Linked DNA regions of Homo sapiens. The protein of the gene in region 1 purifies or fractionates together with the protein of each later gene. This does not show direct contact. Each region holds a gene or a part of one and is shown on either strand. Other genes may lie near its edges. The genes, in order: NLE1, SPAG7, HNRNPH3, MTHFD1 and RRP1B.

Region 1 (3,525 bases):
TTCTTCCCCAGGTACCTGGCCAGTGGCTCTGGAGACACCACCGTGCGCTTCTGGGATCTCAGCACAGAGACACCACATTTCACATGCAAGGGTCAGTATGCAATTAGCCATTTAGGGGGTCTTCTTTTTTTTTGAGACAAGGTCTTGCTCTGTTGACCAGGATGGAGTACAGTGGTGCAGTCACAGCTCACTTGAACTCCTGGGCTCAAGCCTTGAACTCCTGGGTTCAAGCAGTCCCCCTACTTCAGCCTCCAGAGTAGCTGGGATGACAGGCACTTGCCATCACACCTGGCTCGTTTTTTGTTTTCATACAGATGAGGGTCTCACTTTGCAGATTACAACCCCTTAATATCCAGTTGGCGGCTGTCTGTTCCTAGGTAGAGACCATGTCCTTGAGCCCAGCCAGCCACTTAGACACAAGCAGAAACTGCACCAAGGAGTCAATATGGGACATGGTGAGAGGCTGACTGACTGCTACCAAGGAGAACCTGGTTTAAATCCTGCCTCTGCCACAGTGGTTTTCAAACTTGAGCACAAATCAGAATTGCCCCGCCTCAGGGGCTTGTTAAAATGCAGATTGCTGGCCAGGCGTGGTGGCCCACACCTGTAATCCCAGCACTTCGGGAGGCCAAGGCAGGCAGATCACTTGAGGTCAGGAGTTTGAGACCAGCCTCGCCAACACAGTGAAACCCCATCTCTACTAAAACTACAAAAATTAGCCGGGCATGGTGGCGTGTGCTTGTAATCCCAGCCACTGGGGAGGCTGAGGCAGAAGAATTGCTCGAATCTAGGAGGCGGAGGTTGCAGTGAGCCGAGATGGCACCACTGCACTCCAGCCTGGGTGATGGAGTGTGACTCCATGAAAGAAAGAGAGAGAGAGAAAAGAGAAGAGAGAAAAAAATACAGATTGCTGGGCCCCACCCCCAGAGGTTTAGTTCTATTGGGCCTGGGGTAGGGCCTGGGAATCTGCATTTCTAACAAGTTCCCAGGAGATGCTGATGCTGCTGCTCTGACGACCACACTTGAAGAACCACTGCTATACCACAGATTAGTTAAGTGACCTTGTGTGTGTAGGGCATGTTCCCTTTCTAAGCTTCAATTTTCTCATCTGGAAAATGGGGATGATAATTCTTGCTTTGCTCCATAGCTTAGAGCTCTTGTGAGAAATAACAAGGGATGACATGTACAAAAACACTTCATAGCATGTGTCACATAAGGAGTCATTAGAGAGTGATGGTGTTATCCATGCAGCAAGATGCAGAGCTCTAACACTTGGGGTGCATTCTATCCATCCCCAGAAAGCCTCATCGCTCCTTTTGTTCAATCATTCATTTATTCAAATGGTTAAGGAGTACCTGGCACCTGACAGGCACTGCTGGGCACTTGGGATAAAGACAGATGTAGTCCCTTATTTCTCCCTCCTCTGCTTTCTTAGGACACAGACACTGGGTCCTTAGTATATCCTGGTCTCCAGATGGCAGGAAGCTGGCCTCAGGCTGCAAGAATGGCCAGGTAGGTAGTTCTCAGGGTAACTAGGCAGAGACTCAAGGGGGCCTTCCTAGGAGACAGTTCAGAATCAGGTTCAGGAGTCTTTGGGGAGGGTTGGGTGGGAAGTGGTAGGCAGGGATTTTGGTGGAGCCAGAGACCTGTTGGGGAGGATTATTCAGTGAGCTTCTGTCCTTCAGATTCTCCTCTGGGACCCAAGCACAGGGAAGCAGGTGGGCAGGACCCTCGCTGGCCACAGCAAGTGGATCACAGGCCTGAGCTGGGAGCCCCTCCATGCGTAAGTGACACTGACGGAGCTGGGACAAATGAGCCAGGGGATCAAAGCCATCCCCTTTCCCTGCCCAATGCATAGAAGTTTTACGTGAGGGGACAAGATGGGCAGCCTGAATGACCGTGATGGCTTGGCAGGCATGGGAGAAGGGTCTCGGGCAGACCTGCATTGCTGCTTGGGAGAGGCTCTCATCACAGGGTCTGCTGGTTGCAGTCACCTTGCAGTGCAGCCGGGTCTTGGTGTCAGAAAAGCTGTCAAAAGATTGTCCATGGCCTTTAAGTTGGGAATGGGGAGGTGCCATGGGCACACAGATGTTGCCAGGTCACAGATGAGGTCACATCTCCCTTCTCTCCAGGAACCCTGAGTGCCGCTATGTGGCCAGCAGCTCCAAGGATGGCAGTGTGCGGATCTGGGACACAACTGCAGGCCGCTGTGAGCGCATCCTCACCGGGCACACCCAGTCGGTCACCTGTCTCCGGTGGGGAGGGGACGGGCTTCTCTACTCTGCCTCCCAGGACCGCACCATCAAAGTCTGGAGAGCTCATGACGTAAGTGCTGGGAGGGTTCAGAAACCAGTCCAGAAAATCGCAAGTCACAAGATGCTGGCACTCAGAATGACCTTGACATCAGCGAGTCCAGTGTTTCCCAGATGTGTGCTGGGAGCCCTGGTCTAGGGAGGTGTTTTGGGAATGAGGAGTTCTGTGGTTGGTGCTGCACCATAGTGGAGATTGCAGAGTCCCCATGAGATCGTCACACTCTGGAAATTCCTCCTGTAGGACAGCTGTTGGGCTTTATCAGATCTACCATATCCCAAATGTATTGGACAGGAGCCGTTTACTCTGACATCCCTAACTCCTCTTCCATGAAACATTTTCATGATCTGGACTCCATTTTACAAGTGGGGAGAGACTTGACCCCAGAGGGGTAGTTTGATTAAGATCACAATGCATGAGTGATGATGATTATTAGTCTTGTACCACCTGTCTCCTGGGGCTAATCGCCCAGGCGTGGGGAGGAGTGTGTGTGTCTGACCTGACTCGCTCTCCCGTAGGGTGTGCTGTGCCGGACTCTGCAAGGCCACGGCCACTGGGTGAACACCATGGCCCTCAGCACTGACTATGCCCTGCGCACTGGGGCCTTTGAACCTGCTGAGGCCTCAGTTAATCCCCAAGACCTCCAAGGATCCTGTGAGTGATTGGGAGAAGGAAGAGCGGGGGCTGATTGGGAAGGAGCCAGTTCTCAAGCTTAATGGGGAGTGTTTGCTCTTTGTGTTGGATTTTCTTATCGGCCTTCTTCCTCATCTCCTTTTCTCCCCTCCGGTACCTGGTCACAGTGCAGGAGTTGAAGGAGAGGGCTCTGAGCCGATACAACCTCGTGCGGGTGAGTGTGTGCCAGCCACGTGCACCCCTAGCTCTGTACCAGTCCTTAGCCAATCACTAAAACCCTCTCAGACCCTTCTCCCTTCTAGACCCAGCTCAGAATGTACCTATTCCAAAAAGTTGTTCTTCATAATCCTAGTTTGCAATCCTAAAATACTAATGTGCTAGAGATCATTTTATTTCGTTTTTTGTTTAGTTTATTTGCTTGTCTATTTATTACATTTCCAACATGCTTCTTTTTTACTTTAATTTGTTGTTTAAGATTGTTCACACATTCACGTTCAAAAAATACAAAAGGTAGATCGCGGAGTCTCCCGTCTCTATTGTAGCATCCAGTGCCACCAGTATCCTGAATCACCTTCCAGAGAT
Region 2 (3,071 bases), about 30 Mb from region 1:
TCAAAAAAAAAAAAAAAAAAAAGAGATTAAGAATAACAATAATACAATAGAACAATTATAACAATGTACTGAAATAAAAGTTTGTGGCTATGCTCTCTCTCTCTCTCAAAATATCTTACTGTATATAACAGTTCTGGACTGCAGGTAACTAAAACCTTGGAAAGCAAAACCTTGGATAAGGGAGAAGTAGGGACTACTGTATCTGGCACCAGGCGAGACCCTGAAGTACTGAGATTATTAAGACACAATGTGGCCCTTCAAGAGCTCCCAGTTTAGTGGGAGTGACAAAGATCAGAATAATGCTTAACCCCCTTTCCCAACTCCACTGGGGAAACCAATTAACAAATATCTATTTATTTATTTATTTTTGAGATGGAGTTTCACTCTGTCACCCAGGCTGGAGTGCAGTGGCATGAGCTCAGCTCACTGCAAACTCCGTCTCCCAGGTTCAAGCGATTCTCCTGCCTCAGCCTCCCAAGTAGCTGGGATTACAGGCATGTGCCACCACACCCGGCTAATTTTTGTATTTTTAGTAGAGATGGGGTTTCACCATGTTGGCCAGGCTGGTCTTGAACTCCTGAGCTCAAGTGATCCCCCCGCCTCACCTTCCCAAAAGTGCTGGAATTATAGGCGTGAGCCACTGCACCCGGCCTATTTATTTTTGGGACAGGATATCACTTTATTGCCTAGGCTGGCGTGCAGTGGCACAATCACAGCTCACTGCAGCCTTGACCTCCCTGGCTCAAGGGATCCTCCTACCTTAGCTTCTCAAGTAGCTGGGACCACAGGCGTGTGCCACCATGCTCAGCTACTGTTTAAAAAATAATTAAAAATATTTGTGAGATGAGGTCTCACTATGTTGCCCAGGATGGTATTTTTATTTTATTTTATTTTTATTTTTGAGACGGAGTCTCACTCTGTCACCCAGGCTGGGTGCAATTAGCACCCAGCTAATTTTTGTATTTTTATTAGAGACGGGGTTTCACTATGTTGGTCAGGTTGGTCTCGAACTCCTGACCTCGTGATCCGCCCGCCTCAGCCTCCCAAAGTGCTAGGATTACAAGTGTGGGCCCAGGCTGGTCTCGAACTCGGCTTCAAATAACCCTCCCACCTGGGCCTCTCAAATTGCTTGAAAGCCTTGAGCCTCTGCACCCAGCCTTGGCTAATTTTTTTTTTTTTAAGTTTTCTGTTAAGATGGGGTCTCAGTTTGTTGCCCATCCTGGTCTCCAGTTGGCCTCAAGTAATCCTCCCACCTTGACCTTCCAAAGTGCTGGGATTATAGGTGTGAACCACCATGCCTGGACTATAGTTAGTTCTTTGTACATTGTGGGCATTAAATAAATGTTTGGGCTGAGCGTGGTGGCTTACGTGTGTAATCCCAGTACTTTGGAAGGCCAAGGTGGGAGGACTGCTTGAGGCCAGGAGCTCCAGACCAGTGCAGGCAATATAGTGAGACCCTGTCTCTATAAAAAATAAAGAATTAGGCATGATGATGCATGCCTGTAGTCCCAGCTACTCGGGAGGCTGAGGTAGGAAGATCACTTGAGCCTGAGAGGTCTAGGTGACAGAGCAAGACCCTGTCAAAAACAAAAACAAAAACAAACCATAATGCATCTGGGAAGGTGAGGAAAACAGACTAAGACCCTGGCCTCAAAGAGTCTGTCATCTCGTTTACACAGGAAAGGGGAATTTTTTTTTTTTTTTTTTTTTTTTTGAGATGGAATCTCGCTTTGTCGCCCAGGCTGGAGTGCAGTGGCACGATCTTGGCTCACTGCAACCTCCGCCTCCTGGGTTCAAGCGATTCTTCTGCCTCAGCCTCCTGAGTAGCTGGGACTATAGGCATGTGCCACCACGCCCAGCTAATTTTTGTATTTTTAGTAGAGATGGGGTTTCACCATATTGGCCAGGCTGGTCTCGAACTCCTGACCTTGTGATCCACCTGCCTCGGCCTCCCAAAGTGCCAGGATTACAGGCTTGAGCCACCGTGCCCAGCTGGAAAGGGGAAATTATTTAACTTTCTATATTTTGTAAAATCCCCCACTTCCCACTTCTATAGACAGGATGAAGCTGAAATAGATAATCTGACACCCTTCTCCTTTGGGAGTGTAGGTGTCCAAGGTTAGCTGTGAAGGGTCTTCTTTTTCTGAACTCTTGGGCTCAAGGTATCTGCCTGCCTCTTGCCTGAAGATGCCCGAGACCCCATCTTTACAGAAAACTTTTTTTAAAAAAATTAGCCAGGTCTGGGTGCAGAGACTCAAGCTTCTCAAGCAATTTGAGAGGCCGAGGTGGGAGGATCACTTGAGGCTGGGAGTTCAAGACCAGCCTCCCAAAGTGCTGGGATTTCAGCTGTGAGTCCCCTCGCCTGGCTAAGGGTCTTATTTAACTTTCTTCCTCTTCCTTAGATCCTGCCTCTGCGCCAGATCCCCTCTGCCTCTGGAGGAGGAGGAAGAATTTCTAACCCGGGCCCTCCATGCTTGCCTGTCTTCCCCACGATGTGATTTTACTACCTCTAGAGATTTGGGTGCATGCTTCTTCCTACTCCTGCTCCTCAGCCTGAAATTTTTTTCTCTTTTGCCATTTCAAATCCTTTACATCTTTTTTTTTTTTTTTTTTTTTTGAGACGGAGTCTCGCTCTGTCGCCCAGGCTGGAGTGCAGTGGCGCAATCTCCGCTCACTGCAAGCTCCGCCTCCCGGGTTCACGCCATTCTCCTGCCTCAGCCTCCCAAGTAGCTGGGACTACAGGCGCCCGCCACCACGCCTGGAGAATTTTTTGTATTTTTAGTGGAGACAAGGTTTCACCGTTTTAGCCAGGATGGTCTTGATCTCCTGACCTCATGATCCACCCGCCTCGGCCTCCCAAAGTGCTGGGATTATAGGCGTGAGCCACCGCACCCGGCCAAATCCTTTACATCTTTAAGGCCTCCTTCTTCCCCAGGATCTGAATCCTCTCCAGCTGCACTGAACCTCTCCCCATCATTTATTTATTTATTTCGAGACAGAGTCTCGCTGTGTGCCCAGGCTGGAGTGCAGTGGCGCGATCTCGGCTCACTGCAACCTCTGCCTCCCGGGTT
Region 3 (4,125 bases), on another chromosome or scaffold:
TGTGTGTGTGTGTGTGTGTATTTTTAGTAGAGACAGGGTTTCACCGTGTTAGCCAGGATGAACTTGCACTGATCTCTTTACCAGGCTTCCCCTTAACCCTCTGCGCAGAAATTCGGGGTTTTTCTTTGTGTTTGAGACAAGAGTCTCCCTCGGTCTCCCAGACTGGAGTGCACTGGCGCAATCACGGCTCACTGCAGCCTCAACTTCCAGGGCACAAGCCATCCTTTTGCCCAGCCTCCTGTGTAGCTGGGACTACTCGGGAGTCCCATCTACTCCCGTGCGCTGCCATCACGCCCAGCTAATCTTTGTATTTTTTGTAGAGACAGCACCTCACTATGTTGCCCAGGCTGGTCTCCAACTCTTACGCTCAAGCGATCCTCCCCCTCGGCCTCTCAAAGGCGTAAGCCACCGCGGCCAGCCTTTTTTGGAACTTAAAAAAAAAGCCATAATGTGTCATTAGGAACCTTGGTGACATGACAGCAAAACCAAAATGTACTTATTTATTAGGTGTCACTTGGAAGCGCAATTTTCAACAACGCAAAACTATAAAAAAAACCCAACGTCGGCCTCCACAGGCTAATCAGTCTCCGAGGCACTGACGGCGGGAGAGATGAAAACGCGAAGGCCAGAGGAGAAAAAGAGGAAGGATTTGCAGAGAGAACGGTAACGTGGTGGACATGAATACACCCAAGAAACCCGGATCCCGCGCGGCACATTGGGACGAAGCGCGCTGGCGGGCGGCCAGCAACTCTGGGCCAGGGGAAGGAGGCGGACACCCAGCCCGAGAGCCGAAATCGGCCCCAGTGGACGCTTTCATCTTCGCGGCCCAGAAACACTCCTATTTTTCACCGCACAATGCAAACATGGTGGACCAGAAAATCCGCCCCGCGTTTGCCGGTCGAACCACGTGGGGCCCTTTCCGCGCCGTCGATGCCTAGCCAGGGCGGGGCCCTCACAGAATTTGTTCACGGTGGGGGCAGATCACCGGAGAACTTCTCCAGAGCGCTACGGCACGGTTCCTTCTACACACTGGCAGAACTGCCATTGCCATCGCCCCGAGGCGGCAGAATGGTACGCTCTGAAAACTGGATGGTTCTAACGTAAGCAAGAAAAACGGTGCGCGCTGCAGCTCTTTAACTGGAACAGCCTCTGCTCGGTCTACCTCGCCCCCAACAGCTGCGCAACCCACCACCGCGCAGGCGCGCTGCGTGCCGCCAGCGCCATGCGAAACCGACTTTCCCGTCTCGCGAGAGTGGGGCCGGCCGCCTTCGCAGTTCTCGCTCCGCCCCCCACTTCTTGCTCGTTCCCTCCCATCCCCCCAAGCCAGTAGCTGTGCTGCGCAGCTCCCTAAGCGGTTGTCACCGCTGGAGACGGTTGGGAGAACCGTTGTGGCGAGCGCTACACGAGGCAAACGACTTCTCCCTTCTTTGAACTGGACCCCGCGAGCACCAGAGTCGGCGTAACTATCGCCTGACAGGGTATCTGAAGTAAAAGGGGGTAGGTTGGGCTGGTGGTTTCGAGAGCGGAGTCGGGAGAAGGACGAAAGGCCGGGAGGGGCTGGGTTGGGGGGTAGTGGGGTGGTCGCCGCTCGGAGGCCGCCGCTTGGAAGCGGCGGGGCTGCGCCTCCCCGACCATCTCCCACTTCAGGGAGGGCGGCTTGCCGATGGGAGGACTTGCTCAGGTGGAATTCAGTGGACGACGCCGAGGCCCGAAGTAGGGGACATCCAGCATTTTCCCCTTTCCCTGCTGGCTTGGCCTCCGCCATTTTGGGTACAGTGGCGCGGCCACCTCGGCTTCCCGCCCTTCCCCGCTCTTTTTACTTTTTTGTTCCCCAGCTTCCGAAAACTGATCTAGAAGGCCAGGGGAGGGGGTGGTCAAAGCTCCCTGGAAGGGATGAGGGTGGGTAGTGAAGCGAGCAGGGAAAGGCCGGGCAGTTGGGTGGAGGGAGGATCGGGTTTGCCGGGCGCGCTCCCGATGGAAATGGCGCCGGATGGGCCTGGCCTCCCACCGCGGCCTCCCTTCCTCCGCAGTCTCGGCAGGGCTACCTGGGCTGACGGGACTGCGAGTGACTTCTGACGCAGATTCCCAAGATGAGAGAGGCTGGAGCTGGGGGAGGAAAGCCAATGGCGACGAAGGTGCTCAACTCCCAAATCCAGGACAAAGGAGGCAGACGGCCTCCTTTGTAATTCTGCCGCCCGGTGGCGAAGGGTTTTAAGCCAGGCTTGGCTGCTGACGGGAGGGGGAAGGGGCGTACTCTCCCTAGCTTTCTGGTCTCTAGGGCAGCTAGATAAACGGAAAGTCTCCTGGGAGGAATAAAGGACGCTTAGCCGGCCCTTATATTCCAGATTTGGAACTTCGAAAAGAGTACGTACTGATTTTCCAAAGGGTTTTTTTTTTTTCATGTTTAAACGTTAATAAGGACTTCGGGGATGATTTTGTGAGCAGAAAAGTGGGTGATTTATCAAATAGGAATGTGAAATGGGCATGTTTCAAGTAGGTCGTCTGGGCCCAGTGAACTATAATTGTTGCTTTTTGAACTTTCGGGGTGGGGGTGGGTGATGTAGCAATTGTTTTGCGTAGTTTGGCGTATATATGTTAGAATTTGTTTTTAAGTTTTACTTTTGGGAAACAGTTAAAACAACCCAGTGATGGTAGATGTGTGTGTATTGAAATTGAGCTTTCGATGTTAAATCTTCCAAGAGTTGTATTTTGTGCAGTTTTTTTTTCCGATGGCATTAAGGCTCTAGAAGTAAAATACTTCAAAATACGGTTATGGTTTATTTTCTTTTGGTAGCTAGGCATGTTTTTTCTTTAGTGTAGGAGTATAGTACACTGTAATCGTATTTTAAACAAGGGAATAAGCCTACTAAACATAAAAACAAATTGTAAACCCAGTCACGTGGTGGTGGTGTGATTCGGATGAGGGTCCTGAGAACTGGATCCGTAATTTTCATTGAAGACAGTACAAAAGGGAGGAGAAAGGCCTGAGAGTAAGAATTTCTGATAATTCATGTAAAACTTTATAAGAATATTGTTACCTACTTTTCCAGCTCTAAAAACAAAAACTTATTATTATTGAAGATGTTCAGTGATGCTTTCTCAAGATTGCCAAGGAAAAGTTTACGAAAATCTTACCTTGAAACAGTAGGTTTGAGTGACCCTTTGAAGAGATAGTCCAGACTGTCCTGTAAAGTTATATATGATATAACAAATAGCTTTACTAATTGGATTGGACTACACATCTTTTTTCTGTCCTCTTTTCATTTGTGCCGTTATCTGGAAATCCATCTAATTGCCTTTTTAAAATAATGTTATCTTTGATTTCCTTGTTTTGGTAAACTGACTGAACTGCAGTAGATAAAAACCTGGTTCTAGTGAACTAACATTTTAGAGACCTTACCTCCTTAAGCTATTAGGGGTGTGTCTAGTTTTTTGTTTTTGTAAAGAGCAAGCCCATTGGGAAGGAATGATGTAAATTTTCTGTTAAACTTAAATCATCAGCACTTTTTCCAAAAAATAAAATTCATTCTCATTTCTTGACCACTGGGCTACCATTTAGAAAGTTATTTATTGATGTAAAATCCTTTATGTATTACTTCAGAAGATAGGCTATGCCTCCGTGTTAAGAGGATTCTCTATTTCATTTGTTCTTTAGTGGATTTTTTTTCTTTAACGACTTTGGTATATAATTCACATACCGTAAACTTCACCAATTTTAAATGTACAGTTTAGTGGATTTTAGTACATTCACAGCGTTGTGTGACCGTCACTACAATTTAATTTTAGAACATTTTTGTCACTCCAAAAAGATATCCATACCCTTTACTGGTCATTCCCATTGCTGGCATCCTCCCTCCCCTCAAGCCTCAGACAATCATGAATAGAAATGGAATCATGCAATATGTAGTCTTTTGTGACTGGCTTGTTTCACTTGGTGTAATGTTTAGAAAATTATACTTAAAGTCTCATAAAACTTGACCAAAGCTATCCTCATATTTTAACTGTGGTATCTTTTATTGGTACTAGCACCTAGAATTCTTAAAGCAGAGTAGTGATTAGCCATGACATTGTTGCAAAGAAAGGTTGAGGTGGATTATCCTGAATAATTAGTAAACTGTTTTAAGT
Region 4 (3,111 bases), on another chromosome or scaffold:
CCTGGGCTCAAGCAGTCCACCCATCTCAGTCTCCCAAAGTGCTGGAATTTATAGGCATGAACCACTGCACCTGACCCTCTCCAATTTTATTCTCATATCTACTCCAAACTATTATTTTAAATTAGTTTTATGTTATTTCCATAGATGGAAATAAAATATTCACTTGTGGACTACAGTTGTGAGTACCTAACTCCCTCACCCAACAGTTCTTTTTTTTTTTTTTTGGCTTAATAAATAAGCTGGAGGACAGCAAGATAGAGATGTATATAAAGGGAGTTGGATGTTTCGAATAAATTGAAGAATCCATGTAATCACAGGGCCCAGATGGTCATTGCTGGGTTGTCATCTTTTCATTTGTCCTCCCTCTCTTCCCTTCTTTCCCCAGGGCTTTGGGAATCTCCCCATCTGCATGGCTAAAACACACTTGTCTTTGTCTCACAACCCAGAGCAAAAAGGTGTCCCTACAGGCTTCATTCTGCCCATTCGCGACATCCGCGCCAGCGTTGGGGCTGGTTTTCTGTACCCCTTAGTAGGAACGGTAAGTGCATGCTGCAAGGGAGTAGTGGGCGCATCTGCACTTCTCGTCTGAAGTGTGTTGCCGAAACCATCAAGCAAATGCCAAGTGAGCAGAGTTCACTGCCCAGAAGAAAATTGGAATCGGGCCTATTATGATTGCTGTGGATCATAAGCTATAAAGCAGGAGCTATATAGCTCTTGCTGTGGACCATCTTGGTGTCAAATCAAGAATGATGCCAGGACTACTCATACTGAATAAAAAATTCTGTTTCCCAGGGACAGTATGCTCTTCACTGAATCTAGGATGAGCCCAGTTGATAGGCTGGGGTAGTGCTAACATAATCACAGTTAATGTTTATTGGGAGCCTTACATAGATTAACTCAGTCCCCCCACAGCCCTAGGAGGTAGGGACAGAGGTTTTACTGACAGGCCTAGAACTTACGTCTGAAATTCAGGGGGTTCATTATTTTTAAGTAAGGAATTTCCCCATTAAAAAATGCAAATGGACCCTTGAGATATGAAAGGTGAGGTTGCTTATTTACGCTTCAAGGTGAACAAGGTGTCCATTGCTTTCTTATCTTACAGATTTTATGCATATTCAAAGAAGAATATTGCCAGTTGGGAAGCAGAGGGGAGGGATGCTTAAGGACATAATCATAGTTTGGGCTGACATTGTTCCAAGGTTAACTTGGATCCTGAATCTAGGTTATCCCCTAAATCTGCCCTGTATCCTGTATCTACAGATTGTACTGCCATGCAATACAGGACTGAAATATTAAACTAAATCAACACACATGGAAAAGAAACCAACATACATCCTTTTGGATTTATGTCATTCTTTCAGTATAGTAAGAAAGTGGTAGGAGGTGGCATTATAGAGTTGAAAACGTAGGACATTAGAGCTGAATTCATTTTCACCTCTTCAGATCTTGGCCTTGGGCAAATTATGAAAGGTGAGAGCCCTGCTGCCCTCAGCTCACACTGTAGGCAACATCATCACATCACAGTGGTGCTTAGCACAAATGCCTGCATCTCACTGCCTCCTTAGCTCTCTATAGAGAGCAGAAGGCTTAGACTTGCTATGATGTACATCAGTCTCCAGGATTTGTAGAAATCCCTTGTGGTAGGAATTTTCCACCATTTTTACCCAGCACCTTGAATAGTGCAGAAATATGTGTTGTTCTTTTTGGAGAAGTTGTCAGCAGCTACCAGCTGAAAGACGGGTAGCTGTACTCTTTCTTGTCACTTTTGATCTTCACATGAAGAAAAGGGTAACAGTAGAGGTGAAAGCAAATCTGGAAGCAGTCAGGCCAGTGAGAGTCAGGCTGTAAGGTGGAGAGAGACACAGCCTGCCGAACTCAAGACTTTCTCATTTAGAACAAAGTATGTGTCAGAGGCTTTTAACTTTAAGTTGGACCAAGGCGTTTCCACACATGATCAAATGGTTTAATCACTATTCTAACACCTTCCAGTTGCCGTTGGGGCCTTAACGAGACTCAGATTATTTGAATATTTTCTATATTAATTCAAAGTGTGATGGCTTATTTTCAGAACTTTATATCTAGGTTCATACATGTGCGTACACATAATATTGTCTTTTTTTGTATTTTTTCTGATTATCAGTGACCAGTGTTTAGGAGGGAAAATCCTCTTGGGGAATGAGTGAAAATATCAAAAATCCTACTCATCACTGTTTAGGGAACCATCTTTAGGGTTTTCTGCTGACATGCACATGCCCGTCTACAACAATGGGCATGTGTCTTTTATCTTTATAATGTCATCTTCCGGTTTTTCTGCTGTGTCTAAGGACCCATCCTTTCCTCTCTCCTACTTGTCTCACACCTAGCACCTCCTTACCTCTTACACAATATAAGAATATAAACCAGTTGTCAGATCCCTATAATGTGTTTTGGGGAATATTGATTGGTACTCAGAAGTCAGTCAGAATGAGGTTTTCTAAAGTATTGATGATGTTTTGTGTTACAGAAGATGACTCTTTTTAAATAACCTTTTTATAGTTAAGTTTTAGAAGTAACCTAAGCTGTTTTCCTGTCTAGATTTGATTTGGAACTTGTGTGTATTCATTATATAGGACATTGTTACAGATAAAAATATACGGAGTTTTCACTTGCAAGCCGTACATATTTGCATCTAAGTAGAAATTTGTCAAAGCCGAGTCTTTAGAAAAGTAGTGAGTACAAATATAATTTGTAAGCATTACAAGTTTAGTTTTAGAAGGCCATTTTGGGCCAGTAAGAATGGTGATTATAAAACCATCTAGATTATGTACAAAAGTGTCTTGGCCCAAGTTAAAGGATACTAACTCCTACCATCGTGTTGCTGAAGCAAAAATCACATGGGCAGCTCAGCTAGCAAGACTGAACGAAACAAAATTTAAAAGCAGGCAAGCCCTGTACCTCCTTTTGGTCTTGCAAAGCGTGAGCTGAGGAGGCGAGTGAGCAACTCCTCTACTCCCCAGCACTCATTCTTGTAAGGTGAAGGTGGAAACACCTCCTGCTACTGCTTGTGACCACATGGAAGATGATAGTGAAGGCTGGCATTTGGTTTGCAGAAGGACATGAGGAATCAGTTTC
Region 5 (3,035 bases), on another chromosome or scaffold:
TCAACCAAGACGCCCGCAGCCACTACAGAGGGGCCAGGACGCAGCAGCCTGCGGGCACTCTCAGAACCTCGTGCACACAACTTATGGGAACTTACAAAATCATAAAAAAGGCCCCACATTCTTAAAGGTATAATTTATAGCGCATTCTGTACAAAAGCAGTCTTTTACAAGGGACTCTGCTGCTCCTCAGAAGAAATCCATAGCCCTGGGCCTTCTCCTTGGTGTGGTGGTCAGGGGCTTCTTGGCCACCAGGGGTGAGCTGGCAGGTGAGCTGGTGGGGGTCTTCAGCACCCCGTGGAGGGGCTTCTGTTCAGGGTCGAAGGCCACTCGAGAAGGGCCCGTGGGACTGACCAAGATACTCTTGTCTGTCTTCTTGAATTCTGTCCCAAATGAGAGCAAGGCCCCATATTAAGTGGGTCCGACAGCTGTCCCTTCAACACCTTAGACAGCGTCCTGCCTGGGTGCCGACCCCACCCACTTGCTAGGACGAAGCAGGGCCATCTCAAGGCCCTGCAGAGAGCAGGCCCAAGAGCCTTCTGAGGAAAGGAGGGCAGTGAGGCCACATCCCATGCCTCAACTCACCCTCCCAAGGGAGGGCCCAGGGCTGCCTGCACAGACTAAGGGGAGCTGCTGGTAGGGTGGCTCCTGGAAGGGTGAACATTGGGGGTGGGGGTGTTTTGGACAATGAGTGAACCAGGCATTTGTGTCTGGGACAAATCTGTGCTATGTGGAGCTGCAGGATTCGTACTGTTCATTTTCTCCAGTTGTAAAGGCTGGGTGAGCTCCTCAGTCTCTCAGAGTCTCTTCTCCCTAAACATACACACTCACGCATGTGTGCATGCACACGCACACACACATATATACTGGTGCATGTACACACACTCACACATACACATACTCTCTATTACTTGCAGTTCCCAACAAGAGTCAGGTCCTAAATTCGTTATAATACTTTTTTTTTTTTTTTGAGATGGAGTCTCACCCAGCCTGTCACCCAGGCTGGAGTGCAGTGAAACGATCTTGGCTCACTGCAACCTCCATCTCCTGGGTTCAAGCAATTCTCCTGCCTCAGCCTCTCGAGCAGCTGAGACTACAGGTGCTTGCCACTACGCCCAGGTAATTTTTGTATTTTTAGTAGAGACGGGGTTTTACCATGTTGGCCAGGCTGGTCTCGAACTCCTGACCTCATGATCTGCCCACCTTGGCCTCCCAAAGTGTTGGGATTACAGGCATGAGCCACCGCGCCTGGCCTATACTACTTTTTAAAACTTTGGTTTCCTTTGTAAAAGCAACTCGAATGGATGGCACCAATATGAAAAGTAGGAAGATAGGGGTTACCCTTCTCTGTCGCCCAAGAAGCAAGTGGTTCCGAAGTTTCGCAGAGAGACAGCTACAGCTGATGGAGCACTACGATCTCAAATGGCCTCTCTATGGGACGGCTTTCAGTATTTAGAAAGACACTTGGGAAAACGGCTTTTTGGATCACGTCTCACCAGGTAGCTTCTCTTAACAGGTCCCAGGCAATTGGCTGCCCACTCACCACTGGCACCCCACTCACAGCCCTTTGAGGATGAGGGACAGACACATAGGTGCTTCCTTCTGACTCAGAAATGGGCAGTGAGGGGCCGGGCTCGGTGGCTCACGCTTGTAATCCCAGATCTTTGGGAGGCCGAGGCAGGCAGATCACCTGAGGTCAGGAGTTTGAGACCAGCCTGGCTGACATGGTGAAACTCCATCTTTACTAAAAATACAAAAATTAGCTGGATGTGATGGCGTGCACCTGTGATCCCAGCTACCCGCTACCCGGCAGCCTGAGGCAGGAGAATCGCTTGAACCTGGGGGGGCGGAGGTTGCAGTGAGCCAAGATCTCGCCACTGCACTGCAGCCTGGGTGACAGAGCAGCGAGACTCTGTCTCAAAAAAAAAAAAAAAATAAAAATAAAGAAATGGGCAGTGAGGAGCTAGGACCCCCCTCTTCCCCGACCGCCTTGTGGAACCAGGCTGCGAGCCGCGCCAGGAGCTGCAGCTGTGCTCCAGAGAAGCTTGCCGCTGGCAAAACCCCACTTACCGGCAGTCATGTTTCTGTTCAGCCCAAAGGTGACTTTCTTGGAGCTGGATGGTGTCTTGTTTAGCTGCAGAAGAGAAATAACAGGAACAAAAGGAGTGACGCAAGTGCAGTGGAGGCGCTTAGTCAGATTTTTCTGGAGAACCTGCCCTGGAGGGTATGCCGCCCACACTGCTGCTTACTGAGTGGCACATATAGGGAGAGGCCAAAGGGACTGCGGCCAAGACTGAAACCGACCCTCCTGTCGGGGCTTCACCAGGACCGCCCTTTGTCCTTCCCAGCGTCCCACACACGCAACCCCCCAGCCCAGGGTCAGTGGTGCCCACACTCTTGGCCCATCTGCGGTCACTGCCTCATTACCGCTGCAGGGTTCTACGATCCAGGGAAGAAAGGCAAACAGAGAGGATGCCTGAACTGTCCTAAAAACAGTTCACCACTGAGAACCCGTGAGGAAAAATGCCAAGACTCCCCTGCCTTTTGCTGGAGAGTTCTGAACTTCTAACTTGAAGACTCTATGACATCGATGAGACGATGCCTATGATGGAATCTCACTGCAATGGACAATGGACACACAGTTTCCAGCTTTTTGTGCACAAGGACTCTGAGCTATCTGCATATCCCAACAGTTCACCACAATCAACTATCTTCTTTCCTACTTACATTCCTGGAAGTGGATCCAGCCTGCATCAGGAAGCACTGCCTCAAGTTCCTGCTCTGACCCACATTTCTGTGTGGACCTCCTACTGCTGACTTGCACCACTTGTGTTTAACACTGTGACATTTCACGAGAGAAAACTGGTTTCTGCAAACCCTGAGCCGGAAGCCCTGGGAGGCAGAATGTGTGGATCAACCGCCCCTCAAAGTCCCCTTCCTGACTGTGATCCCTCAGGGTGGGTCCCAGACCACTCAGACCTTATGCTACCCTGGCCGTGGAACCTGTCCACTGTGGACAGGCTCAGAGGGCCACAGTG

What was found.
Region 2: the proteins of NLE1 (region 1) and SPAG7 fractionate together in Homo sapiens (co-fractionation; one large-scale study listed by BioGRID). This does not show direct contact.
Region 3: the proteins of NLE1 (region 1) and HNRNPH3 fractionate together in Homo sapiens (co-fractionation; one large-scale study listed by BioGRID). This does not show direct contact.
Region 4: the proteins of NLE1 (region 1) and MTHFD1 fractionate together in Homo sapiens (co-fractionation; one large-scale study listed by BioGRID). This does not show direct contact.
Region 5: the proteins of NLE1 (region 1) and RRP1B purify together in Homo sapiens (co-immunoprecipitation; one large-scale study listed by IntAct). This does not show direct contact.

The regions. Positions count from the first base shown.
Region 1 is NC_000017.11:35,135,801-35,139,325, reverse strand, and holds part of NLE1 (notchless protein homolog 1), read left to right. Parts: intron 1-11; coding exon 12-91; intron 92-1,435; coding exon 1,436-1,512; intron 1,513-1,685; coding exon 1,686-1,783; intron 1,784-2,132; coding exon 2,133-2,325; intron 2,326-2,828; coding exon 2,829-2,964; intron 2,965-3,110; coding exon 3,111-3,157; intron 3,158-3,525. UniProt on the Homo sapiens protein: Plays a role in regulating Notch activity. Plays a role in regulating the expression of CDKN1A and several members of the Wnt pathway, probably via its effects on Notch activity. Required during embryogenesis for inner mass cell survival.
Region 2 is NC_000017.11:4,961,763-4,964,833, forward strand, and holds part of SPAG7 (sperm-associated antigen 7), read right to left. Parts: intron 1-3,071.
Region 3 is NC_000010.11:68,330,739-68,334,863, forward strand, and holds the start of HNRNPH3 (heterogeneous nuclear ribonucleoprotein H3), read left to right. Parts: upstream 1-1,325; 5' UTR 1,326-1,478; exon of another isoform or gene 1,479-1,497; intron 1,498-2,045; exon of another isoform or gene 2,046-2,364; intron 2,365-4,125.
Region 4 is NC_000014.9:64,454,338-64,457,448, forward strand, and holds part of MTHFD1 (C-1-tetrahydrofolate synthase, cytoplasmic), read left to right. Parts: intron 1-385; coding exon 386-538; intron 539-3,111. UniProt on the Homo sapiens protein: Trifunctional enzyme that catalyzes the interconversion of three forms of one-carbon-substituted tetrahydrofolate: (6R)-5,10-methylene-5,6,7,8-tetrahydrofolate, 5,10-methenyltetrahydrofolate and (6S)-10-formyltetrahydrofolate.
Region 5 is NC_000021.9:43,690,535-43,693,569, reverse strand, and holds part of RRP1B (ribosomal RNA processing protein 1 homolog B), read right to left. Parts: intron 2,132-3,035; coding exon 2,068-2,131; intron 381-2,067; coding exon 187-380; 3' UTR 1-186. UniProt on the Homo sapiens protein: Positively regulates DNA damage-induced apoptosis by acting as a transcriptional coactivator of proapoptotic target genes of the transcriptional activator E2F1.